Homo sapiens: one gene and its partner. The protein of the gene in region 1 purifies or fractionates together with the protein of each later gene. This does not show direct contact. Each region holds a gene or a part of one and is shown in the gene's direction. Other genes may lie near its edges. The genes, in order: LLGL1 and TIMM13.

Region 1 (9,506 bases):
GGGTTTGGGGCAGGGCCTAAGCCAGTTAGTAACAGGAAGGGTCCCCTGGCCTCTTCAGTTGTGGGTGGGAGACAGGCCTTTCTGTGCATAGGCAGGGTTGAGGGCAAGGAGGGTCCCATGGGCTGTGCTTGGTAAGGCGCTGGCAGCATGCCCCAGCTGAGTGAGAGTGTGGGGCATCTCTCTCCCCAGCCCTGCCTGAAATAGCTGGAAAAGGGGAGTACCAACCCAGGGATGGATTCCTGATGCCTCCCAGCTTCTGCAGATGGGGGTATCTGGGGCCCTCCTGCGAAGTCAGGAGATGTCTGAGCGCTGGCAGCGGGATTCCTAGGAGGGGCTCAGCGGGGAGCTCCTGGTCCTGGCTTGGGCAGTGCCCTGGTTCCTGCTGTCCTCTCCTGGTGGGTGGGAGGAGCTGGGAGCCCAGTCTGCAAGACCTAGGGACCCTATTTTTATCCATCTCCCTGCTGACATCCTGATGAATAATTGAGCGGGCTGATGATGATGCATGTCTTCCTGGGGTGGCTCTGTAAGTAGGCCCTGGTGAGTGCTGTGGGGCCAGTGATGAGTTATCAGCAGTGGCCCAGCCCCTCACACCCCACCTGAGCAGGTGGATGGGCTTGTACCCTCACTCCCTTCCCCTTGTTCCCTGCAGTGCTCCGCTCAGCCTTACCCGAGTCACAGTGGTCCTGCTGGTGGCTGCCAGCGACATAGCAGCCCTGGGCACTGAGGGCAGCAGTGTCTTCTTCCTGGATGTTACCACCCTGACCCTGCTCGAGGGGCAGACGCTTGCCCCAGGCGAGGTTCTGCGCAGGTAAGAGGCCGGTGGGCTTCCCAGCACCCACTGTGTGCCCGGGAAGTTCTGCTGGCTCACCTGCCTTCCTCCACAGCGTGCCAGACGACTACCGCTGTGGGAAGGCACTGGGCCCCGTGGAGTCACTCCAGGGACACCTGCGGGACCCCACAAAGATTCTCATTGGCTACAGCCGGGGCCTGCTGGTCATCTGGAACCAGGCCTCGCAGTGTGTGGACCACATCTTCCTGGGGAACCAGGTATGTAGGTGAGGCCTGTGTCCCCTCAGCCTGGGCCCCTTGTGCATGCCCACCATGGCTCATGCCTGCCTGCCTGCCTGCCCCTGCCTGCCCGCAGCAGCTGGAGAGCCTATGCTGGGGGCGTGATAGCAGCACTGTGGTCAGCTCACACAGCGATGGCAGCTATGCTGTCTGGTCTGTGGATGCCGGCAGCTTCCCAACGCTGCAGCCCACGGTAGCCACCACACCTTACGGTGAGTGCTGGGGACACCTTAGCCAGAGGGTGGTGATGGGAGGGGGCACCACTGAGCCAAGCCAAACTGGCTGAGGAGGGACTTCCCCGAGGGGGTGGTCTGGGGGCAGTGTGTCTCCCGCCGACTTCCCGGGGAGGCAGGAGGCAGCTGTAAGGTAGAGAGCAGTGGAGGGCAGAGCAGGAATGGCAGAATTGCTAAGAACCACCAGTGAGTCTGGTCTGACGCTGTCCCACCCCTCAGGCCCCTTTCCCTGCAAGGCCATTAACAAGATTCTGTGGCGGAACTGTGAATCTGGGTAGGTCGAGGGAGTGGGTGTCCGATGTGAGTTGGGTCTGGCTAGGGGGCTGGAAGGGTGGGCTCTCCCTAGGTTGTGCAGTATGTGCTCTGGACCCAAGTGGTTCATGGCTCGCACACCTCCCTCTGCACATAGGGGCCACTTTATCATCTTCAGCGGTGGCATGCCCCGTGCCAGCTATGGTGACCGCCACTGTGTAAGTGTGCTTCGAGCCGAGACATTGGTGACGCTGGACTTCACTTCCCGCATCATCGACTTCTTCACAGTGCACAGCACACGGCCCGAGGATGGTGCGTGCCCTGCCGTACCCTACCCTTTCCCAGCCCCACCTGGTGCCCTCTGCCACCTATGGCTGTGCTCACCCCATACTCCCTCCGTCCCACAGAATTTGATGACCCCCAGGCCCTGGCTGTGCTGCTGGAAGAGGAGCTGGTGGTGCTGGACCTGCAGACTCCTGGCTGGCCAGCTGTGCCTGCCCCATACCTGGCCCCGCTGCACTCCTCTGCAATCACTTGCTCGGCCCACGTGGCCAGTGTCCCCGCCAAGCTGTGGGCCCGCATTGTGAGCGCTGGCGAGCAGCAGAGCCCCCAGCCTGTCTCCAGTGCCTTGGTGTGTGCGGCGATCAGGGGGGTCTTACAGGGTGGAGTCTTGAGGAGGGGGAGAGTTTCAGTTCTAAGCCCGGAGGTCAGAATGTGCCATACTCGGGGTGAGAGGGAGAAGATGTTCGTCCTAACCTTGTGCATACATCTCTGCCACCCCCTCCCAGAGCTGGCCCATCACTGGGGGCCGAAACCTGGCCCAGGAGCCGTCACAGCGAGGGCTGCTGCTGACGGGGTAGGTGTGCGTGCTTATGTGGGTGAGTGGGCCCCTTGCTGTTGGGGGAGAGCCCATCCTGGGCCTGGTGGGTGCAGAGGTGCCAGGAGACTCAGGCCTGGCCCCTGGTGGGACCAGGTAGTTCCTCCTTGCCCAAGGTGGTTTGGAATGAAACCTCCCTGGACCTTGGTTCAAGGTGCTGCCCTGATCTGCCTTTTGGCCTGGAACTGAGCTCTACCAAACCCCAGGGCTCCACCCGCCCAGCCTGCCTGCCCTGGGACTGGAAAATCTGGGCTGGCCCACGCTGAGCTGCCCAGGGAAGGTGCCAGAGAGCCCAGCGTGGGCCTGGCGGGCGCTGACGTGCCCAGTGACTCAGGTCTCAACTTCCTGCCCTGCCCCCACTCCCGCCTGTGCTGGGACCCTCAGGCCTCTGACTCTGGTGTGCCCTTCCCTGCTGAAGAGCTTGCCGTGGCTTTCAGGGCTGCTGGAATGAGTCTCAACCACCCCCACAGTCACACACCTCTCACGCCCTGGCTCTGGGCTTTCACCACCGCCTGGGGCCCTGCTTGGACTCTGCAGCTGTGTCCCAAGGCTGCGCCCTAGATTTGTCTACTCCTTCCCCTGCCCCCTCCCTGCTTTCTCCCGGCCTCTGTAGTCTTCCTGCTCCTCCACCTACGTGGCTGCCTTGGGCCCCATGCAGCTCCTCCCCCGGGATGCCCCATGCTCTGTTCTGTGACTGCCTTACTCTTGATCACCTCTGATGGCTGCTCCAGTGCAGGCAGAACCCCCAAAGTCCTCTGTTCTCTACATGTCCCCCTTTGCCACCTCCTGTTAATCAGGGTGGTCATTTCCACCTTGTTTGGTTTAAAGGCTCCAGGTGCATATGGTGCATGTGGCCTGGCCTATAACAGGTGCACAGTGTACCTGTGCTGTCTACAGTAGGTGCCTATTGTTTTTTGTAAAAGTAGGATTCCGGTCAGTGTTTGGCACGTGCAGTAGGTGCTTAGTGAGTGGTTATCAGATGAGTGAATGGAGGGGCGTGCAGGCCTCCCAGGAACTCGGGTAGCCCTGACATCTGCCCTCCCTGCAGCCATGAGGACGGCACCGTGAGGTTCTGGGATGCCTCGGGTGTGGCGCTGCGGCCGCTCTATAAGCTGAGCACAGCTGGCCTCTTCCAGACAGACTGTGAGCACGCTGACAGCCTGGCCCAGGCTGCCGAGGACGACTGGCCACCCTTCCGCAAGGTGGGCCCCTCCCCTGGCCCTGATGAGCTGGTCCTGACCCCGCCTGGACTCATTACTCCTTCCCATCCCTCTAGGTGGGCTGCTTCGATCCCTACAGTGACGATCCCCGGCTTGGCGTGCAGAAGGTTGCTCTCTGCAAGTATACAGCCCAGATGGTGGTGGCTGGCACTGCAGGCCAGGTAGGGCTGGGTGTCCCCTGGGTTGGAGATGTCAGGGAGGGCTTTCTGGAAGAGATGAGCTGGAGGGTCTGGTGGAAAGGGAGATGGACTGGCACAGGCAAAAGCCAAGGTGGGAATAGGGCTCTGGGTGGGGCTGGCTGGGGTGAGGACAGATGGGAAGTGGGCCTGTCGCTGGGGGAACCACAGTGTTGAGAGGAGGGAACTCATGTCAGTGCTGTGCTCCGGCACTCACATGACATACAGGAGGTGCTCAATGTGTCCTTATTGCTAAATGGGAGATAGAGGCTCAGGGTAAGGGTGGACACTTTGCCCTCAGAGGGCAGGGACTAGTGTGTCTTGGTCACCACTGTGTTCCTTGTGCTCAGCCAGGGCCTTGGTATACAGTAGGCATTCAGTGAGTGCTTGTTTAGCTGATGAACTGAAGACAGTCCTAGAACCACCTTGGTGGTGGCTGGGGCTGCTTCAGAGGCTCCAGGCTGAGTGGGGCCCAGGGCGGCCCCTCCCCTGCGCTGATGCTCCCCCTGCCTGGCTGTGGGCTCAGGTGCTGGTACTGGAGCTTAGTGATGTGCCGGTGGAGCAGGCGGTCAGCGTGGCCATCATAGACCTCCTCCAGGACCGCGAGGGCTTCACATGGAAGGGCCACGAGCGGCTGAGCCCACGCACGGGGCCGCTGCCCTGGCCTGCTGGCTTCCAGCCCCGTGTCCTGGTGCAGTGCCTGCCGCCAGCTGCTGTAACCGCTGTCACACTCCACACCGAGTGGAGCCTCGTGGCTTTTGGCACCAGTCATGGCTTTGGCCTCTTCGACTACCAGCGCAAGAGCCCTGTGCTGGCCAGGTGTGTGGGGTGGGGCCGGCTGGGCAGTTGGAGCCCCCAGCGAGATGGGGTCTGGGCTTCCGTTTCCACCTCTAGTGTTTGGTGTGGCAAAGGCCACTAACCTCCATTGCCCTATAAGAAATAACCTGGCAGCTCCAAGAAGGACATTCTCAGTACCACCTGCAGCTGGGTCCATAGGACTGCGCCAGAGGGGCTGTGACTCCCTGACCTGGGTGCCTCCACAGGCCAGCAGGAGTGTGGTGGCTGCCCCAGGAGGCTGCTCTATAGCACGACTGGACCCTGTCTTCCCCCAGGTGCACTCTTCACCCCAATGACTCCCTGGCCATGGAGGGTCCGCTCTCCCGGGTGAAGTCTCTCAAGAAGTCACTGCGCCAGTCTTTCCGGCGCATTCGCAAGAGTCGTGTCTCTGGCAAGAAGCGGGCTGCTAATGCCAGCAGCAAGGTGAGCTGGGGTGGGCTGCACAGGAGCTGTGCCTGTGTCCTGTGCCTTGGCCTGGCTCTGGCCTGGGACCCCTGGGGCCTGCTTAGCTCAGTGCTCCTCCCTCGGCAGCCCCTGGGCCCTCCAGAGGGATGGGTGAACTAAGCTGGGTGGTAGAGGAATGGTAACAGAACGTAGGGCGCAAAGCAGGATGCAAGCCACTGGGGTGCTAGGGAGACAGTGTTCAGGAGCCCCCGCCCGGCAGTTGCAGGAAGCCAATGCACAGCTGGCTGAGCAGGCCTGCCCCCACGACGTGGAGATGACGCCCGTGCAGCGCCGCATTGAGCCCCGCTCTGCCGATGACTCCTTGTCGGGTGTCGTGCGTTGCCTATACTTTGCCGACACATTCCTTCGAGATGGTAAGGCAGGGGCAGGGGCAGGGACAGGGCAAGGGTTGGGGGGGCTGGCCTCAATTGGCCACCTGGGAGATGGGTGGTGGCAAGGGAGGTGGTGGGACTGCACCTTCCAGGAGGTGGCTGGGCACGGTGGCTCAAGCCTGTGAGTGATCCCAGCACTTTGGGAGGCCGAGGTGGGCGGATCACCTGAGGTCAGGAGTTTGAGACCCGCCAGGCCAACATGGTGAAACCTCGTCTCTACTAAAAATACAAAAATTAGCCAGGTGTGGTGGCGGGCGCCTGTAATCCCAGCTACTTGGGAGGCTGAGGCAGGAGAATTGCTTGAACGTGGGAGGCGGAGGTTGCAGTGAGCCGAGATCGTACCACTGCACTCCAGCCTGTGCAACAGAGTGAGACCTTCTCAGAAAAAAAGCTTACCATCCAGCTCTCCCAGGGGGACTGCTGGGTCACCCCCAGTCTCTCTGGGGGAGCTGGATGGTAAAGGATTTTTGAGTGAGCTGGGTGGGCCTCTCAGATCTGAGCCAGGAGAAGGGAGGTTGAGGCCTGGTGGATGACGGTGAGGGGCACCAGCCAGTGCCCAGGCCCCGAGCCGGGCATGTGTGTGGGCAGCTGCCCAGCCACTTGGCTGGAGTGGAGCAGGTGAGGGTCGAGGTGTGTGGTTCAGGGAGATACTGCTGCTGGCCAGAGGCTGAGGACCTGGCTTTGATTCTCAGTGGCCTGGGAGCCCTGGGAAGGTCCTGGATTTGTTGATTGAGTCACTGATTGATTTTGAACTTGTACAATGGGAGAGTTTCAAACATACACAAAAATAGAGAGGTGCAAAGTTGTCCCACATACCTCACATGCCTGCCACCAGCCATGTGCCCCTGCGGATTCTGCCCCCCTCCTCCACATTCTTTGCTGTTTTTTTTGCCGGGGTATTTTAAATGAAAACCCAGATACAAGTACTTCAGCATGTTCCTGACAGATGTCACTGACAGCCACTGCTCACATCATGCCCTGTAGAACCAATGTGAATTCCTGAGTGTCATCTGCTTGGTCTACGAGCTCAGCTTTCTGATGCCATTTATTTGTCGAGGGTCTTTGTGCAGTGGATTTTCTCACTGTCTGGATGTGGCGGGTGCAGCTGGGGGTGGGGGGTTCTTTGACTTTTTGTTTTTTTTGACTACAAAGACCTAGAAGAGGAGAGCCTGGGGTTTTTAACTTGTTCCACTGGCCCGAGAAGGCCGATGGGTTCATGTTCATGGCCGGCTGGGGTTCCTGTTGGGCATGTTTTGAGTTGTGCAGACACTTAATGCCTCAGGATCCATCGGGTCATCAGGGAGCAGGTGCCGAGTCTGCTCTTGCTTCTGCTGGGCTGGGCTCTGATTCTCCACTAAAGCTTGTCACCCAGAGGTTCAGTTCACACAGGCAGAGCAGGGTCGATGGATGGTCGTCCTAGGTGTCCCCAGGCTTGGCGGCTTCCTCTGGCTGCCACGTAGGGAGCACACTGAAGACAGTGGGGGTGAAGCAGGGCTAAGACAAGGCACACCTGTCGACAGGACTAGCAAGGGGACGCAGGGGTGGAGAGAGGAGTCGGGGTCTTGTGGGGCTTGGGGCCTGAGTGATGCTAGGATGGAGCTGCGTTTACTGAGATGGGGGCTGAGGGTGCAGTGGGATGGGGCTGGAGGTCTGGTTTGGGTGCCCATCAGCATTCTGTGCAGATGCGCTACAGCTGTTCGGGCCTCTGCAGGAGGGCTGCATCCTGGGCTCCGACTGCAGTCAGCAGCATAGAGCTGGGGTCTCAGGCCTCGAGGCTGGAGGTCACCAGGGAGGCATGGGGCAGGAGGGAATCAGCCCTGAGTCCCAGGGTGTCATAGTTAGGAAGCAGGGCTACAAGAGAGGCAGGGAGGGACCTGCAGTCTGTGGGAAGACCCCAGGGGAGATGCCTGGCCCACAGGGAGCACCCTCCTACGCGCTTGTTTTCTGCAGGGGCCCACCACGGGCCCACCATGTGGGCTGGCACCAACTCAGGCTCTGTGTTCGCCTATGCACTGGAGGTGCCGGCAGCAGCAGTGGGTGGTGAGAAGCGGCCTGAGCAAGCGGTGGAGGCCGTGCTGGGCAAGGAGGTGCAGCTGATGCACCGGGCGCCTGTGGTGGCCATTGCCGTGTTGGACGGGCGTGGCCGCCCACTGCCCGAGCCCTACGAGGCCTCACGGGACCTGGCGCAGGCACCTGACATGCAGGGTGGTCACGCTGTGCTCATCGCATCTGAGGAGCAGTTCAAGGTGAGCCACTGTGGGCTGTGGGGGACTCTGGGGGACTCCCCTCCAGGCCCCAACCTCATGGACACCATTGGACCCTCAAGAAACCCTTCCTGCCTGTATCCCCCACTGTTGGGACCCTAATTCCCTTGCACCCCAGAAAACACTCCCAGCCAGCAGAGAACTCCTACCCAAGAACCCTGATGCCCCCTCAGCCTGCTGAGTTCCCCTGGGAGGGCAGGAATCTAGTCCTATCTCACTGTGCCACACAAGGCTCCTGTACTGGGCCCAGACCCCTGAGCCCAGTCCCCAGGGGCTCTGCCTCGAAAGAACTCGAGGTTTGATGGGGATACCAGCTGCATAACCTTGGCATAACTCTGTGATTGATTTTGTCACAGATCGAGAGAGGGCCTGGGAGGTTTCTGGAGTACAGTGTGAAGTCTGGAGTTTAGTGGGGCAGCCAGGTGTACAGGCACGGGAGGCCACGTAGCATGCAGCTGGGCTTTGTGGTGGGGGCTGTTGGGTCAGCAGCCACGAGGGTGAGGGGCCCTGGGGACGAGGACAGGGCCAGGCTTTGTGCTCACCAGCCACCTGCTGTCAGGTGTTCACACTGCCCAAGGTGAGCGCGAAGACCAAGTTCAAGCTGACGGCCCATGAGGGCTGTCGTGTGCGCAAGGTGGCACTGGCCACGTTTGCCAGTGTGGCCTGCGAGGACTATGCTGAGACCTGCCTGGCCTGCCTCACCAACCTGGGTGACGTCCACGTCTTCTCGGTGCCTGGCCTGCGGCCCCAGGTGCACTATTCCTGCATCCGGAAGGAGGACATCAGCGGCATCGCTTCGTGCGTCTTTACGCGCCATGGCCAGGGTGAGGCGGGGCAGAGGCCGAGGAGGCCTTCCTCAGGCGAGCGAACTGAGTGGGACCAGTACTGCTTGGGAGCAGGAAGGGCACTCCAGGTGGGCACAGGCCCAGGCCACGGAGGAGCTGTGGTTGGTGGTATCTTCTAACTGCACTCCTCATTCTTCTGCCCACCCAGGCTTTTACCTGATATCCCCATCAGAATTTGAACGCTTCTCCCTAAGTGCCCGGAACATCACAGAGCCGCTCTGCTCTCTGGACATTAACTGGCCCCGCGATGCCACCCAGGCCAGGTGTGTGGAGGGGCAGCTCCTAGCCTGGGGGACCTGTGCCCAGGGCCAGGTCTCATCCCACCCCCGAGATCTGCCTTCCCTGGGCTCAGGAGTGGGAGGGCAAGGATCTAGCGTGCCAGCCTCAAGTCATCCACCTATGGTCCCCATCATGGCCCCATCTCTGCAGTTACAGGATCCGAGAGTCACCCAAGCTGAGCCAGGCTAACGGGACCCCAAGCATCCTGCTGGCCCCACAGAGCCTTGATGGAAGCCCTGATCCAGCCCACAGCATGGGACCTGGTGAGGGGGGCATGAAAGGGGTCCAGACCCTGGCCCCACGGTGCCCTGGGGGAGGGAGTCGGGACTCACATAGCTCAGGGATCGGGCAGGCTTCTGTAGGAGATGGGTGGTTGTGTGCTCACTGGTGCCACCCCTCACCATGGGCTGCCTTATGGGTCTGTGTCCCTAGGCCCCCAGGTGCAGAGGGTGCTAAGGGTCCTGGTAGGGGCTGATGACTTGCTCCCTGTAGACACCCCGGAGCCACCCGAGGCTGCACTCTCACCCATGTCCATCGACTCAGCCACCAGTGCTGACACCACGCTGGACACGACAGGGGACGTCACAGTGGAAGATGTGAAGGATTTCCTGGGGTGAGG
Region 2 (15,055 bases), on another chromosome or scaffold:
AGGAGATCGCCTACAAGTTCACGCCCAAGTACATCCTGCGCGCCGGCCAGATGGTCACGGTAGGTGGTGGGGCAGGAGGGCGAGGGTGGCCACGGATGGGGTGTGAGGTGGGGTCAGGGGACTGGAGGCACAGGACTTGGCGGGGGTGGGTGGGGATGATGGTGGCACCAGGCACCGTCTCAGAGCGGCTGCCGCAGTCATAGAACCTCCATGTGCTGGTGTCACCCCACTGGGCCTCCCTGGAGCCTGAGTGGTGTGCCCTGGGTCTGAGTCCAGGCTGCTGGGGCTGGCAGGCGTCCCCGTGAAGTGTTAACAGTCAGGCGCATGGGCCATGGAGCCTGGTGGGTGTCAGATCCCAGTTCAGCCCCTGCTTGCCAAGAGCCCTTGGCCTCTGTGAACCCTGGTCTCTTCTTGTGTATCCTGGGGACCATCACCCTGGATAAGCCTGCGTCGGGCTGGAAGGACTGAACGCCCAGGGCATTGAAGGGGGCTTTGTGGTAGGGGCCACTGGCTGGCCCACGTCCCTGGAACCAGAGGTGACCCTGATGGGGCCATTGTTATTGGGTCCTCAGGTGTGGGCAGCTGGTGCGGGGGTGGCCCACAGCCCCCCCTCGACGCTGGTGTGGAAGGGCCAGAGCAGCTGGGGCACGGGCGAGAGCTTCCGCACCGTCCTGGTTAACGCGGATGGCGAGGTGGGTGTGTGTGGCTTGGGGGGTGCTCGGCTGGAGTCCTGGGCAGGGTCTGGGCACCCTCGGGGCCGCCACAGCAGCTCTGGGCCCGATCCCGGGACATGCCGCCGTGTCCTGTCCCGCACAGGAAGTGGCCATGAGGACTGTGAAGAAGTCCTCGGTGATGCGTGAGAATGAGAATGGGGAGGAAGAGGAGGAGGAAGCCGAGTTTGGCGAGGAGGATCTTTTCCACCAACAGGTAGGACCCCTGTGCCCACTTGCGGCTGGGGGGCAGCCTCTGGGGCAGAGTGAGCTCGTGCACACACATACACATGCGTGCTGGCCGCATCCCCGACGGGAGCTCCATCTGGCTGCCGTGGCTCAGGGTGAAGCCAGCCTTGGCTGTTACCAGCACGGCAGAGACCTGTTCTTGCCTCCTGGGTCGTGCCCATCGTGTGAATTTGCGACATCACAGACCTCAGGGTAGCTGGCCAGGGGGTCCCCTGAGAGGTGGGTGTTGAACAGCTCCCCAAATGCTCTCTGGTCAACCGGCTTCCTCAGTCGAAGACACAGGTCCCTTCAATACTGGCTTCTGGGGAGAAGATGAGTGCAGAAACCACAGCTGCATTAAACGCGTGCGTCGCAAGTTCCTGTGACTGTTTTGGAACCCAGAACAGAATGTGTAGCTCACAGGCGGGCTCATGGGGACATGGAAGTGGAATGGAAGGCTCTAGAAATAGACACTGTTGTTGCTCAGCCCCTCCCTGGTGGGGAGGTGGGGGCAGCCATCTACCTGCCGGCTGCCTCCAGGCTGGCCCTGATCATGGCCGACCTTCCTTCCTTCCTTCCTGCAGGGGGACCCGAGGACCACCTCAAGAGGCTGCTACGTGATGTGAACCCACACTCCTCATCCACACACCTTTCTTTACCCAGAGCCACTGAAAACTATTTTTATATCATTGGCTTTCTTTAGTTCTTGATACATTTCTAGAGAATTTCTAAGCGAACTGCCAGAACGTGTGGGTGGGTCTCCCCCAGCCCTCCCTCCTGGCGGGTCTCCTCCAGCCTCACTTCGCTGCCACTTCGCCGCTGCCCCGGAGACTTTTCAATCCCACCCCACTCCTCATCTCACCATTTGGTCAAATTGGAAGCCCAGGGCCAGGACCCGGAGGTTTAGAAGATGCTTGGGCTTGGAGGGAGGAGGGCCGGCGAGGCTAGCGAGGGGACAGGAGACGGCCCTGCTGCGGACGGAGCGCGGAAACTGCGTAGGAATTCAGTGGTGGTGGGTTTTTTTAAGGCTTTCTACAAAACCAAATTCAGAATCCAGGCGTCGACCTGGTGGGGCCCGGGGCCAAGCCTGCATTCTGGCTGCCCAGCTTCGGACAGCGGGAACTCCTCAGGCAGCCACGCAGCGGGTGTGGGCCAGCATGGGGATGGCGTGGCCCCCAGGGCGGGTTTTCACTCCGCTGCCTGGGCTTCCAGATTCCCGTTCTGGCAGCGCACCGGCCGGGTTTCTCGGACCGTTGACTTTATTTGGGGGAGTTTTCCCGCAGTTCAGTTCCTGACTGTGCAAGGCCAACAGGGCAGGGGAGGGGAAGACCTGGGGAAGGAAGAATGAGGACAGTCCCGTCGTAAGACCTGTCACAACAATAAGCAGGGAGGGGAGATGTGGAGGGGACACATCTGGTTGCCTTGGAGGCAGAAGCTGTGAGTTTCAGAACAGCTGTCTGCAGGGAACGCCACCATGTTGACCCTCTGGAGGAGAGCGCTGTGGAGCCCCTCCCGTGTTCCAGCTCCGTCTGCCCTGTGCCTATATATACACATGCGTCTATCCATACTGTGCTTTTATCTGTGATTTTCTCGCTGAAACCATGTTTCTCAGACAGGCCAAGGCCACCTGACTCCTATCACGACGCACCCAAGCCCCTCAGTCCAGCTTCCCAATGCCTGGCACCCCCCTTCGGCAATAGCTCACCGTTTACACCCTCCCTCATAGATACACAGAAGTTATTTTTTTAATGGATATTTATTTTTTTACATTGGTCAGTACACAGGTCAGGAGCTCACGCCAGGGCCTTGAGGACAGGCTGACCCTCCTCCCCGGGGTGGCGTGGGGCTGGGGCACCCTCCGACGGCAGAGCCTCCTTCAGAAAGTGCAGCTCAAGTCTTAAAGACACCAAAACTGAGCCATGGGCACGCGCCGTCTCCGGGCCATGGCGTTCACTGCAGGGCGGGGGCGGCACCGCTCCCCTGTGACTGCATCCCGCCTCCCTGGGGACCTGCCTGTGGCAGGAAGGAATGGGGGGCCCCAGCCCCAGGCCGGGAAGGAGCCAGCGGCCGACAAAGCAGAAACACCCGCTGCTCCACGTAGCCCCTGCTCGCTGTCCTTGCTCTCAGAAGTCCCGGTCCCATGTAGATAGAGGGGGGCGCATCTTACCAAAGCATTTCCTCCTGGAGGCTACGCCGCTGTGCTCCCAGTCAGGCGGCTGGTAGGGAGCTTTGCCTGCCCCGGGGATACCCTCTGCCAGCCGCTGGAAGTGGGAATGCTGGCGACAGACTGTGTCCTCTTTCCCACCTTCATAGCAGGAATCACCCGGACCCGACTGGCTGGGCTTCGTGCTAGCGAGGGTTCTGGGGGTGGGTCTTGGTGATCTTGTCCTATGGGGAGTCTGCAGTGGTCTCAGCCACATCCTATGTATTTTGGCTCTGGAGGAGCAAAGCTGTATCCTGGAGTTGGTCTGTGATTTGCCGACAGCCTTGCAGGCTGGGCTCAGGGACAAAGTCCCCCCCAAAACCCGCAGGTCCTCATGTCCAGACGCTGCCCAGTCCTGTCCTGAAAACAGCACGCCCCAGGCCCACAGAACCCCCCACCCTACATTTGCCTTGGGTGGAGCTGGGGGTGGTCCTAGGACTGCGGGTGCCCTTAGCTGAAGGGGGTGGGGAGAAGCGTGGACTGGGCAGCCTGTGGGTAATTGGAGGTTCATTGAGAATTGAGTCTTTGGAAACACTAAGAAAATCAAATTTTTAAAAGTTATTTATGGCCTGGGAAACAATTTGCATTTGTCCCCAAATACGCTTAGCTGTGTGCCGCTTAGAACGATGCGAAACCATCCCTCTGTGTAAGCCCGTGCCGTGTGACTCGAAGCCTAGCGCCCTCCCTGCGAAGCATCAGACGCCACCCAGCCCTGGGGGGAGGCCCACGCCTGCTGGACCAACGCGGGTTCTGGGGTGCACAGCGCCAGGTTAACGCTGAAGCCTGCCCCGCTGAGCCCAGGAGCCGGGAGGCCTGCGGGCTGACCCAGAATCCGATCATGCACCTGTCCTCATGCCAGCGGCTTTGGCTGGGGTTGGTCTGAAGCCTGCACGCGGCAGTTCTTTGTTAAAGATCTGAGGGACTCCTCAGTCCTGGGGCGTCGCCGCCTGCAGCCTCTTCCAAGCCCTGCGTCCAGCGAGCGTCACAGCACAACCTGCAAAAACGGAGCTGGGCTGCAGCTGGGGCTGGCATGGACTTTCATTTCAGAGATTCGGTTTTTAAGAAGATGCATGCCTAATGTGTTCTTTTTTTTTTCCAATGATTTGTAATATACATTTTATGACTGGAAACTTTTTTGTACAACACTCCAATAAACATTTTGATTTTAGGTTCTGCCTCTGAGTTTATTCCTGAGGGGAAGCTCGAGCCGGGGCCTCTGCCCTAATGAAGCGGATGTCTAAGAAAGATCCCTCCACCCCCAAGGAAAAAGGTCACTGGCTAGTGTAGCTAGTGTAAACAGGACCCAGGCGATGCATGGGACCCTGCCCTTTTTTTTCTAGTGAGCCTCCGACGCTGTTGCACAAGCTGACTCTTCGTCACGTGATGCGACCGGGCTCCGCCCCGGCGGCAACACGCTGTATAGACGCGCCGGGTGCCTCGTGCGCATGCGCGGCAGGCCCTTCGGGACGAGCTGGAGGCAGAGCGTGAGTACAAAGTGATCGGCCTCGGCCGCACGTAGTAGCCCCCCTACTCCCCGGCCAAGTCAGGGCCTCCCTCTTCCCGCGGAGTCGCAACCACGGGTAGCTCGTGTAGGTAACGGCAGGTCCAGGCCTCCGCATGAGCGGAGGGCCCCCCGCGCGACCTTGAATGGCCCGGGCGCGCGCGGTCGTGTGGGAGTTGTAGTCCTCCGTCCCCGTCCGCGCGGACTCCGTTTCCCGTGGTGCCCCGGGCGGCCCGCTTCCGGCGCAGTTAGTTACGAGTCGGCGCACGCGGCCTCGGTCCGGTTGACTTTGCGGAGCCATGGAGGGCGGCTTCGGCTCCGATTTCGGGGGCTCCGGCAGCGGGAAGCTGGACCCAGGGCTCATAATGGAGCAGGTGAAAGTGCAGATCGCCGTGGCCAACGCGCAGGAGCTGCTGCAGGTGCGGGGCTGGCCGGGGACGGGCGCTGGGGGCGACAGGGCCACCCCTGGGGGCCGACGTCGCGGCTAAAGCCTCGCGTGTCTCCACAGAGGATGACGGACAAGTGTTTCCGGAAGTGTATAGGGAAACCTGGGGGCTCCCTGGACAACTCCGAGCAGGTGAGACCCGCGGAGGTTCGGGGCAAGGGTCGCGAGGGCCTAGATTCGAGGGGGGAGGTGTCTGCGCGTGCGCAGACTAACGGGGAGGTGCGACGGAGTGGTCACTGCACGTGCGTAGTCTGCAGCCCGGGCGTCCTGGAGCCGGGGTCAGGGCGGTCCCCGGGGCCGCGAAGTCCCGAGCTGAGCCGTGCGCCCCTCCGCTCCCGCAGAAGTGCATCGCCATGTGCATGGACCGCTACATGGACGCCTGGAACACCGTGTCTCGCGCCTACAACTCGCGGCTGCAGCGGGAACGAGCCAACATGTGACCGGCGAGCGCGGGCCACCCCACCCTGTTCATTTCCATAAACGTGCTTTGAGAGGCGGGGTCCGCATGTACGTACTGCCTGCCCGGGGCTTAGGAGGGTGGCACCGGTGCTGGGACACACGGGACTGTGTCCTCGCCACCCCCCGCCCTGCCCCCTGCCAGCCAGTGCAGCTTGGATCTCGGGGGTGTGGGGCCCTGTGCCTTCCTGAAGTGCTGGCAGCCCAGTGGCACCTCCTTCAGGCCTTTGGGGTATTCCCCTAGTGTGCCCAAGTCAGCCTCATATTCTGGGCGGACAGCTTGTCTGGACTTCGGAGTTGGGGGTGGTCAGACACCACAGGAGCTGTCACCTCCTGCGGATGGGCAAATAAATTGGTGGAGGACGGAGAGAAACCTCTTTATTTCCCTCCTGAGGGGTCTCTGGGAAGAGGTGACGCGTGTCCCTGGAACCCCAGCTCGGAGGGTCTCAGCCTCCCCTGGGTTGGGAGAAGTCCATCTTTCCCCTTAGTGCCACCGGGCTGCTGAGTCACGAGGAATGTGTTGCTGCTGCCACCCCTGCCCCAAAGGCTAAGGGGGACAGCCTTCCCCTTGTCAGGGCTTGCTTTGACCCTGCTTCGTTCCACCCCGGGTCCTGGTGGAGCACCAGGCAGGTGGTCCTCGCTGTGACACTGAGGTGCTGAGCCAGTGAGCTAGGGTGGAGGGGCTGTGTTTATTGGAACAAAGGGTGGTACCAAAATGCATCCCCATGACCCACAGCCCCCCCACACCCGTCCTTGGGTAGGGTACGGTGGGGTGGGGTGTTGGGTGGCCTGCTGCTCCTGTTGCTTTCACGTAGAGTCTCGGCCTGGGCAGTCACGTGGTGGTCACTCCTGGATGTGCTGTCCTATCCAGCCTCTCACAGCTGCCACCCGGGTATAGACACCTGGGAAGTGGGGCCGGCCACAGCCATAGCCCCAGCTAGTGACCCCAGTTAGCACCCACCGTCCAGAGGGCTCCCTGCAGGCCAGGGGTCCCCCAGCGTCACCCTGTTGGGGAGAGAAGAAAGGGGGTTCAGAGGCCGGTACCTCCCCTACAGCAGCCCTTGGGTCATTGGCCCCTCTAGGAGTGACCCTAGTGACTTCCCCTGGGAGCCGCATTTTCACTATCTGGAAAATGGGCTCAATGCAAAGGTGGCAGACATTTATGGACACCCGCCACGTGGTCCCGGAGTGGAACGGTGCCTCCCACTGCAGCCTCTGCCTGCTCTGCCGCCGAGGCCCGGGGATGGGATGCGGTGGGTTGCCCAATAAACGGCTGTGGAGTGGAAATTCCTCCAGAGCCAAAAAGGCTCCCTGCTTGATCCGCTGGAGAAGCCTGCACCGGAGGGTGGCTCCCGGATGGTGGGCTTCGTGGCAGCGGGAACCCGCCCTCCCCGGCGGCTGGGCGGGACCTGGTCCCCTGGGCCGGGGCGGGGCTCACCGAGCAGCTGTCCACGCCACCCTGCGGGAAGCCGGCACACAGCATGCGGCTGCTGATCTGCACTGGGTAGAAGCGGCGGCAGGTCTGCTCGCTGAGGAGGCGCACGGCCGCCTTCTGCAGCTGCCGCGCCATGGAGCCTGCGGGCGGGCGAGCGAGACGGGGCGGGTGGGGACCGCGTCCGGCCGCCCCCCGAGCCCCGCACCACCGCGGCCCCGGGCGCGCCTACCTCCTTCGCGCACCGAGCCCCAGCCGGTGATGACGCAGCGCGTGCCGTCCGGGGGTCGCGGCGCGGGCTCGGGCAGGCAGATGGGACGCACCAGGCGGCTGCGACGCACCGGCCCCGCCAGCTCCAGCAGCGCCACGTCGTAGTCGAGCGTGTAGAGATTGTAGAACGGGTGCTTGTAGATGCGCGCCACGCGCTCCAGCTGCCCCTCCGCGCCGCTCAGGAACGGCGTGCCTAGGAAGGCCGCCCACTGCTTGGGGTCCCCGTAGCTGCGGGGCGCGCGAGGACAGGCGTCGGCCCGAGCCCCCACGCCCCCGGCCCCCGCCCCTGTGGTGTCCCCCAGCGGCCGGCTGGCACCCTGGGCAGGGTTATTGGCCTCTTGGTCTCTGGCTGTCGGTCTGGGAATGGGCTCAGTCTCCCCCATCAGGCACCGAGGCGGCACCGGGAACTGCAGCCGTCACCACCTAATATGAGCGCTCTGAAAAGGGGTCTAGTGGCCGTGCGAGTCCCGCCCCCCGCCTGCCCTCCCCTTCTGACCTCCAGCCCTGCAGAGCCCAGAGCTGGGTGTCCCCTCTGGAAAACCGGACCCCTCGACTGCCAGGGCTTGGGCCCTGGGGAGGGCAGCTTTCTACTGGGTGGGCTTTGGGGGGCTGGAGCCAAGTCCCAGGGGCGAGGGCTGGGGAAAGAAGTGACCCCAATGTTCCCGTGGGCTTAGCCTGGAGCTGGAGGGGGGGGGCCGCAGCTTCCGGGTTAGGTGGGGACCGCGGGGTAGGACTCGGCCTTCGCAGCCCCAGCCCCGTGTGGTCAGGCTAGGGGGTGGGTGGTCAGGGGAGGGCTGCAGGGAGCGAGGATGGGGAGATGGGGGGTGGGAGGAGTGGCCTGGGGCAGTGGGAGCCGGGGTTGGGGAGGGCACTCCCGGCAAAGGAGGGGGTCAGGGTGCGTTTTCGGGCAACAGTTCGGTTCCGGGTGAGCTACAGAGACATGTAGGGGCATTTGGAGCGTTTGGAACTCACACGTCGAAGCAGTGCGCCGCCGACAGCAGCCACCTCTCTGCCACCAGCACGGCCCCGCAACGGTGTTCCCGGCGCCGCAGCCACAGGCTCACCTGCCACGGCCACTCCCCACGGCCCGCTGCGCTGCCGCCCACAATCCTGGTGAGCGCGGCCGGCGCCAGGCCACAGTCTGCGGGGGAGCCAGGCGCGTGGGCAGGCGGACCCAGGGCACCTCCTCCACGAAGGCCCCCCTGGGCGCCGCCTCTCCACGAATCCCCCTGGGAGCCCCAGGGAGTAGGTTGTGATGGGGGACCTATCCCAGGAAAACTCAGCAGGAAAGGACACTGGGCCTGCTGCTTGGTCTTTGGGCTTTTCTCAAATAACATTGGAAATGCATTTGTTTCCTATGACTTCAGTTTTGGGACCATACGTTTCCCCTGCCGGAGGCCCCTCTCATGGCAGCCTCCCACATCTCCGTCTTCCAGGAGTTCCCTCCCACCCCAAGGCCTTTGCACACACCAGGGCCCCGCCCCAGAGGCCCCAGCCCTGCCTTGGTGCCCTCTGCCTGGATCCCTGATCACCTCCAAGCCCTCCCCAGACGGTGCCAAGCGCAAAGGCCTTCCTCAGAACCCAGCTGTGGAAAGAACACGTGGGTGGTTTCCAGGGGGTTTCAGGGACCCTGTTACCACCCATGGAGGGGGTCCCATACCCACCTGCTGTCTCCAGAGGCGTGTTTTCCTCCTCAGGGGCAAGCCCCCCCGCCGCCCTCTATCACCACCCAGCTGGCTTCCCTGGGTCCCCCCCGCCCCCCACCCCCCACCAACCGCCATCCAACCCGCAGCAGCTACCAAGGCCAGTAAGGGGAAATGCCAGTTCCCCACCAGCCTTGGCACCGTCTGGCCCTGACATAAGACCAGGTGGCCTTGGATAATCTGACAGCAGCCGCAGCCGCTGTCCTTGGGAACACCAGCTACCTCCACACAGAACCCGCCTGTATTTTGAGGGGGGCCTTCTCCACCTCTTTTGGGCCCAAAGAGATCCCACGCCATAGCTATTGAAAAAGTCAAAATCAGCTGAGACTGAGAAAGTGAGAGCCCCCAGGCTGCAGGGACAGACCTACATGAGGGCAGCTGCCAAGTTAGCAAGAAACACGCACCCAAGGACATGGCACAGCTGTGAACCATCAAAGTCCCTGCTTTCATTTTTTTTTTTTTTTTTAATTTTTTTAGAGACAGGCTGTGTCACCCAGGCTGGAGTATAATGGCATGATCTCGGCTCACTGCAGCCTCTGCTTCCTGAGCTCAAATGATTCTCCTGTCTCAGCCTCCCCAGTAGCTGGAACCACAGGCATGCACCATCACGCCTGGCTTTTTATTTTTATTACTATTATCTAGCTGGAGTCTCACTCTGTTGCCCAGGCTGGAGTGCAATGGCACGATCTCGGCTCACTGCAACCTCCACCTCCTGGGTTCAAGCGATTCTCCTGCCTCAGCCTCCCAAGTAGCTGGGATTACAGGCACCTGTCACCATGCCTGGCTTTTTTTATTTATTTTTTTGTAGAGATGGGGTTTCACCATGTTGGCCAGGCTGGTCTGGAACTCCTGACCTCTGGCGATCCACCCGCCTTGGCCTCCCAAAGTGCTGGGATTACAGGCATGAGCCACCGCGCCCAGCCAGAGAGGCCGTTATGTCTTTTTCTTTTTTGAGACGGAGTTTCGCTTGTTGCCAGGCTGGAGTGCAGTGGCATGCAGCTCACTGCAAGCTCCGCCTCCCGGCTTCATGCCATTCTCCTGCCTTAGCCTCCCGCGTAGTTGGGACTACAGGCGCCCACCACCACGCCTGGCTAATTTTTTGTATTTTTTTAGTAGAGACAAGGTTTCACCGTGTTCGCCAGGATGGTCTCGATCTCCTGACCTCTTGATCCGCCCGCCTCGGCCTCCCAAAGTGGACGACGTTATGTCTTGTTAGGCAGCCCAGGCTGATTAACATGGGACCCTCCACTCCCAGGGATCCCTCCGTCTCTCCCGGTACCTGGTAGCTGGGTGTGTGTGGTGGCCTCCGGGGCGTCTGGAAATGGCGTCTGTCCCCTAGCAGTGGTGCTCACGGCAGATAAGGTTGAGTTGGCAGGTTGGCCCGTCACCCTGCTGGCAGCCCCAGGGGTGGGTCTGCTGGGTGTGGCCCCCGGGACTGTGAGGCCAGCTGTCGTCCTGGGGCTGGTGGTGGCCAGCATCCTTGTGGTCGAGGGGGGAGACATGGGAAGGGGCTGGGAGGACATGATCTCCAGGATCCAGCCCTTTAGCCTGGTGATGCGCGTGTACACGCCCGGCTTCTTAACCTGAGCGCAGCCAATACCCCAGCTCACGATCCCTGCCAGATAAAACACGCCAGGGGCCTCCTCGCAGGCCAGGGGGCCCCCAGAGTCACCCTAGAAAGGAAGGAAAGAGCACTGGTTGGTCCTCCAGGGACCCTCTCTTCCCAGCACTGCCATACCCTCCTGCGTTCCTACAGTGGGTGGGAGCCATCGAGGGCGGGGGGCAGAGGGCACAGCGCGGGTCTGGAGACCTGACTGCAGCCCCATGCCTGGCTGTGTGACCTGGAGTGAGTCACTTCTCCTCTCTGAGTTTCCATCATTCTTGCTTTTGTTTTGAGGAGGTAAAACAATGCAGAAAAACTCTAAAAATAATAACAATAAGGCCAGGCGTGGTGGCTCACGCCTGTAATCCCAGCACTTTAGGAGGCTGAGGCAGGCAGATGATGAAGTCAGGAGTTCCAGGCCAGCCTGACCAACATGGTGAAACCCCGTCTCTACTAAAAATACAAAAATTAGCTGGGCGTGGTGGTGGGCGCCTGTAGTTCCACCTACTAGGGAGGCTGAGGCAGGAGAATGGCGTGAACCCGGGAGGCGGAGCTTGCAGTGAGCTGAGATCGCACCACTGCACTCCAGCCTGGGCAACGGAACAAGACTCCCTCTCAAAAAAAAAAATAAATAAATAACAACAATAACAGCCATGAATAGTCCCACCATCTAGAAGTAGCCCCTGACCACTAGCTGCCAAGCTTATTTCTTTTCTTGAGGCAGAGTCTCGCTCTTGTTGCCCAGGCCAGAGTGCAGTGGGATGATCTCGGCTCACTGCAACCTCCACCTCCTGGGTTCAAGTGATTCTCCTGCCTCAGCCTCCCGAGTAGCTGGAACTACAGGCATAAGCCACAACGCCCGGCTAATTTTTGTATTTTTAGTAGAGATGGGGGCTTCACCACGTCGGCCAGGCTGGTCTCCAACTCCTGACCTCAGATGATCCACCCGCCTTGGCCTCCTAAAGTGCTGGGATTACAGATGTGAGCCACCTGGCCTGGCCTCAACATTCTTTTCAAGATAAAAAGCTAACTATTGTGAATCGCCCATTTATATAGAGAATAAATAGTATAATAATAGATACTATAAATACCTATTATTCTATTTTTATTGTCAGATATAAAGAACAAATATAATGAATATATAGGAAGAAAAGACTATGCAAGACACCGATCTCACAACACTCCTAGAAGACAGGCATTGCTATGCTTCCCACTTTACATATGGGGATCAGAGTCCCAGAGAGGTTAAGGCACTTGCCTGGGGTCACACAGTAGTTGAAGCAGGATTTGAACTCAGAAGTCTGATTGAAGAACTTGGGCTGGGTAGGTTCCCATTGCAGGTTATTTACCACCTTCCTTTTAACTACTGTGTGTGAATGGGCATTTACACTGTCATTGATATTTTGTATTGATTAGTAATAATGGCATCTAACTTTGAGAGTTACTATTGAAATCTGATGCCATTTTTTTTTTTTTTTTTTTGAGGTGGAGTCTCACTCTGTTGCCCGGGCTGGAGTGCAGTGACATGATCTCGGCTCACTGTGACCTCCGCCTCCTGGGCTCAAGCAATTCTCCTGCCTCAGCCTCCGGAGTAGCTAGAATTACCAGCACCCGCCACCATGCCTGGCTAAATTCTTGTAGTTTTTTAGTAGAGACAGGGTTTCGCCATGTTGGCCAGGCCAGTCTTGAACTGCCTACCTCAGGTGATCTGCCTGCCTCGGCCTCCCAAAATGCATGCCACTGCACCCGCCCTTCGTTTTTTGAGATAGGGTCTTGCTGTGTCGCCCAGGATGGAGTGCAGCTGTGTGATCACAGTTTACTGCAGCCTAGACACCTGGCCTCAAGAGATCCTCCCAGTTCAGCTGCCCAAGGAGCTGGGACCACAGGCACCTGCCACTCTGCCTGACAAATTTTTTTTTTAAATTTTTGTAGAGACGGGGTCTCACTATGTTGTCCAGACTGGTCTTGCAATCCTGGCCTCGACTGATCCTACCTCAGCCTCCTGAAGCACTGGAATTACAGGCATGAGGCACTGCACCCAGCCTGAAAATTAACCTGTCTGTGTGTGCACGGTTGAGCCCTTCAGAAATCTGGGCATGGTGGCTATGGCCGGGTGCAGTGGCTCAGGCCTGCCATCCTAGCAGTTTGGGAGGCTGAGGCGGGCGGATCACCTGAGGTCAGGAGTTCGAGACCAGCCTGGCCAACATGGTGAAACCACGTCTCTACTAAAAATACAAAAATTAGCTGGACGTGGAGGCACATGCCTGTAGTCCCAGCTACTCCAGAGGCTGAGGCAGGAGAATCACTTGAACCCAGGAGGCAGAGGTTGCAGTGAGCCGAGATCACGCCACTACACTCCAGCCTGGGCGACAGAGTAAGACTCCATCTCAAAAAAAAAAAAGGAAAAAGAAAAAGAAATCTAGGCTGGGTACAGTGGCTCACGCCTGTAATCCTAGCACTTTGGGAGGCCCAGGTGGGCAGATCACGACATCAGGAGATCGAGACCATCCTGGCCAACATAGTGAAACCCCGTCTCTACTAAAAATACAAAAATTAGCTGGGCATGGTGGCGGGCGCCTATAATCCCAGCTACTCGGGAGGCTGAGGCAGGAGACTCGCTTGAACCTGGGAGGCGGAGGTTGCAGTGAGCCAAGATCGCACCACTGCACTCCAGCCTGGGCGACAGAGCCAGACTCCGTCAGAAAGAAAGAAACAGAGAGAAAGACAGAGAGAGAGAGAGAAGGAAAGGAAAGGAAGGAAAGGTAGGGAGGGAAGGGAAGGAAAGGGAGGGAGGGAAGAGAAGGAAAGGGAGGGAGGGAAGGAGACGGTGGGAGGGAAGGGAAGGAGAGGGCGGGAGGGAAGGGAAGGAGAGGGTGGGAGGGAAGGGAAGGAGAGGGCGGGAGGGGAAGGAAAGGGAGGGAGGGAAGGAAAGGAAAGGTAGGGAGGGAAGGGAAGGGAGGGAAGGAAAGGGAGGGAGGGAAGGAAAGGAAAGGTAGGGAGGGAAGGGAAGGGAGGGAAGGAAAGGGAGGGAGGGAAGGAAAGGAAAGGTAGGGAGGGAAGGGAAGGAAAGGGAGGGAGGGAGGGAAGGAAACGGAGGGAGGGAAGGAAAGGGAGGGAGGGAAGGAAAGGAAAGGTAGGGAGGGAAGGGGAGGGAGGGAAGGAAAGGGAGGGAGGGAAGGAAAGGGAGGGAGGGAAGGAAAGGAAAGGTAGGGAGGGAAGGGGAGGGAGGGAAGGAAAGGGAGGGAGGGAAGGAAAGGAAAGGTAGGGAGGGAAGGGAAGGAAAGGGAGGGAGGGAGGGAAGGAAACGGAGGGAGGGAAGGAAAGGGAGGGAGGGAAGGAATGGAAGGAAAGGCCAGGGAGGGAAGGAAAGGGAGGGAGGGAAGGGAAGGGAGGGAGGAGAGGGAAGGAAAGGGAGGGAGGGAGGGAAGGAAAGGTAGGGAGGGAAGGGGAGGGAGGGAAGGAAAGGGAGGGAGGGAAGGGGAGGGAGGGAAGGAAAGGGAGGGAGGGAAGGAATGGAAGGAAAGGCCAGGGAGGGAAGGAAAGGGAGGGAGGGAAGGGAAGGGAGGGAGGGAGGGAAAGGGAGGGAAGGAAAGGGAGGGAGGGAGGGAGGGAGGGAAAGGGAGGGAAGGAAAGGAGGAAAGGAAAAGGAGGGAAGGACAAGGAGGGAAGGAGGGGGGGAAGGAAAGAAAGGAAAAAAATCTAGGTCTGCACACAAAGAACTGCTGGGTGAACGGCTGTGGGCATTTCATGGAAATATTGCCCGCTTTCCCCCTTTGAATGCTTACCTGGCAGGAGTCGACTTTGCCTTCCAGGAAGCCTGCGCAGATCATGCGGTCTGTGAGGGAGAAGTTGTAGAGCACACTACAGGTTTTCTGGTCTATGATGCCCACGGACGCCTTCTGCAGGAGCTCGGGCTTGGTGGCTACCAGGGAAAGAGCCAGAAAGGCCACGTGCACAGTGATCATCAGAGCAGCTCCAGTTCCGCTCCGATAACAGCCCCGAGATGCAGCATCCCCACCCCACAGACGAAGAAACCAGGGCTCACAGAGTTGCAGGAATCTCACAAAGCCACAGAGTGAGGAGGAGGTGGGCCTGATGGCCCGCTCAGAGCGCAAGAGTCTCCCCACTGTCCCCATGGGGCTGCCGCCCTAGCACCTGGGTAAGGTGTAGGAGGCCATTCTGAGGTCAAGGGAAGCATTAACTGTTGGAGTGGGAGGGGTCTCGGGATAGACTAGCGCAAGCAAGCACCAGTGAGCATTTGCTTTTTTTGTTTTTTGAGACAGGGTCTTGCTCTGTTGCCCAGGCTGGAGTGCAGTGGCATGATCATGGCTCACTGCGGCCTTGAACTCCCAGGCTCAAGTGATTCTCCTGCCTCAGCCTCCTAAGTAGCTGGGACTACAGGCATGTGCCACCATACTCGGCTAATTTTTTATTTTTCTATTTTTTTTTTTTTTTTTGAGATGGGAGTCTCGCTCTGTCACCCAGGCTGGAGTGCAGTGGCACA

The links.
Region 2: the proteins of LLGL1 (region 1) and TIMM13 purify together in Homo sapiens (co-immunoprecipitation; 2 studies listed by BioGRID and IntAct, with this or other methods). This does not show direct contact.

Annotation. Positions count from the first base shown.
Region 1 is NC_000017.11:18,233,129-18,242,634, forward strand, and holds part of LLGL1 (lethal(2) giant larvae protein homolog 1), read left to right. Parts: intron 1-649; coding exon 650-808; intron 809-884; coding exon 885-1,047; intron 1,048-1,144; coding exon 1,145-1,280; intron 1,281-1,520; coding exon 1,521-1,575; intron 1,576-1,710; coding exon 1,711-1,865; intron 1,866-1,960; coding exon 1,961-2,184; intron 2,185-2,341; coding exon 2,342-2,409; intron 2,410-3,478; coding exon 3,479-3,632; intron 3,633-3,706; coding exon 3,707-3,811; intron 3,812-4,352; coding exon 4,353-4,645; intron 4,646-4,938; coding exon 4,939-5,086; intron 5,087-5,327; coding exon 5,328-5,481; intron 5,482-7,449; coding exon 7,450-7,745; intron 7,746-8,322; coding exon 8,323-8,587; intron 8,588-8,756; coding exon 8,757-8,871; intron 8,872-9,037; coding exon 9,038-9,150; intron 9,151-9,319; coding exon of another isoform or gene 9,320-9,379; coding exon 9,380-9,500; intron 9,501-9,506. UniProt on the Homo sapiens protein: Cortical cytoskeleton protein found in a complex involved in maintaining cell polarity and epithelial integrity. Involved in the regulation of mitotic spindle orientation, proliferation, differentiation and tissue organization of neuroepithelial cells.
Region 2 is NC_000019.10:2,417,420-2,432,474, reverse strand, and holds TIMM13 (mitochondrial import inner membrane translocase subunit Tim13), read left to right. Parts: upstream 1-4,888; 5' UTR 4,889-4,941; coding exon 4,942-5,061; intron 5,062-5,150; coding exon 5,151-5,219; intron 5,220-5,428; coding exon 5,429-5,527; 3' UTR 5,528-6,386; coding exon of another isoform or gene 6,387-6,548; 3' UTR 6,549-6,850; downstream 6,851-15,055. Other genes in the region: LMNB2 (lamin-B2), read left to right, coding at 1-59, 573-692, 817-927, 1,523-1,564; TMPRSS9 (transmembrane protease serine 9), read right to left, coding at 6,387-6,548, 6,982-7,118, 7,208-7,473, 8,218-8,386, 10,228-10,621, 14,337-14,473. UniProt on the Homo sapiens protein: Mitochondrial intermembrane chaperone that participates in the import and insertion of some multi-pass transmembrane proteins into the mitochondrial inner membrane.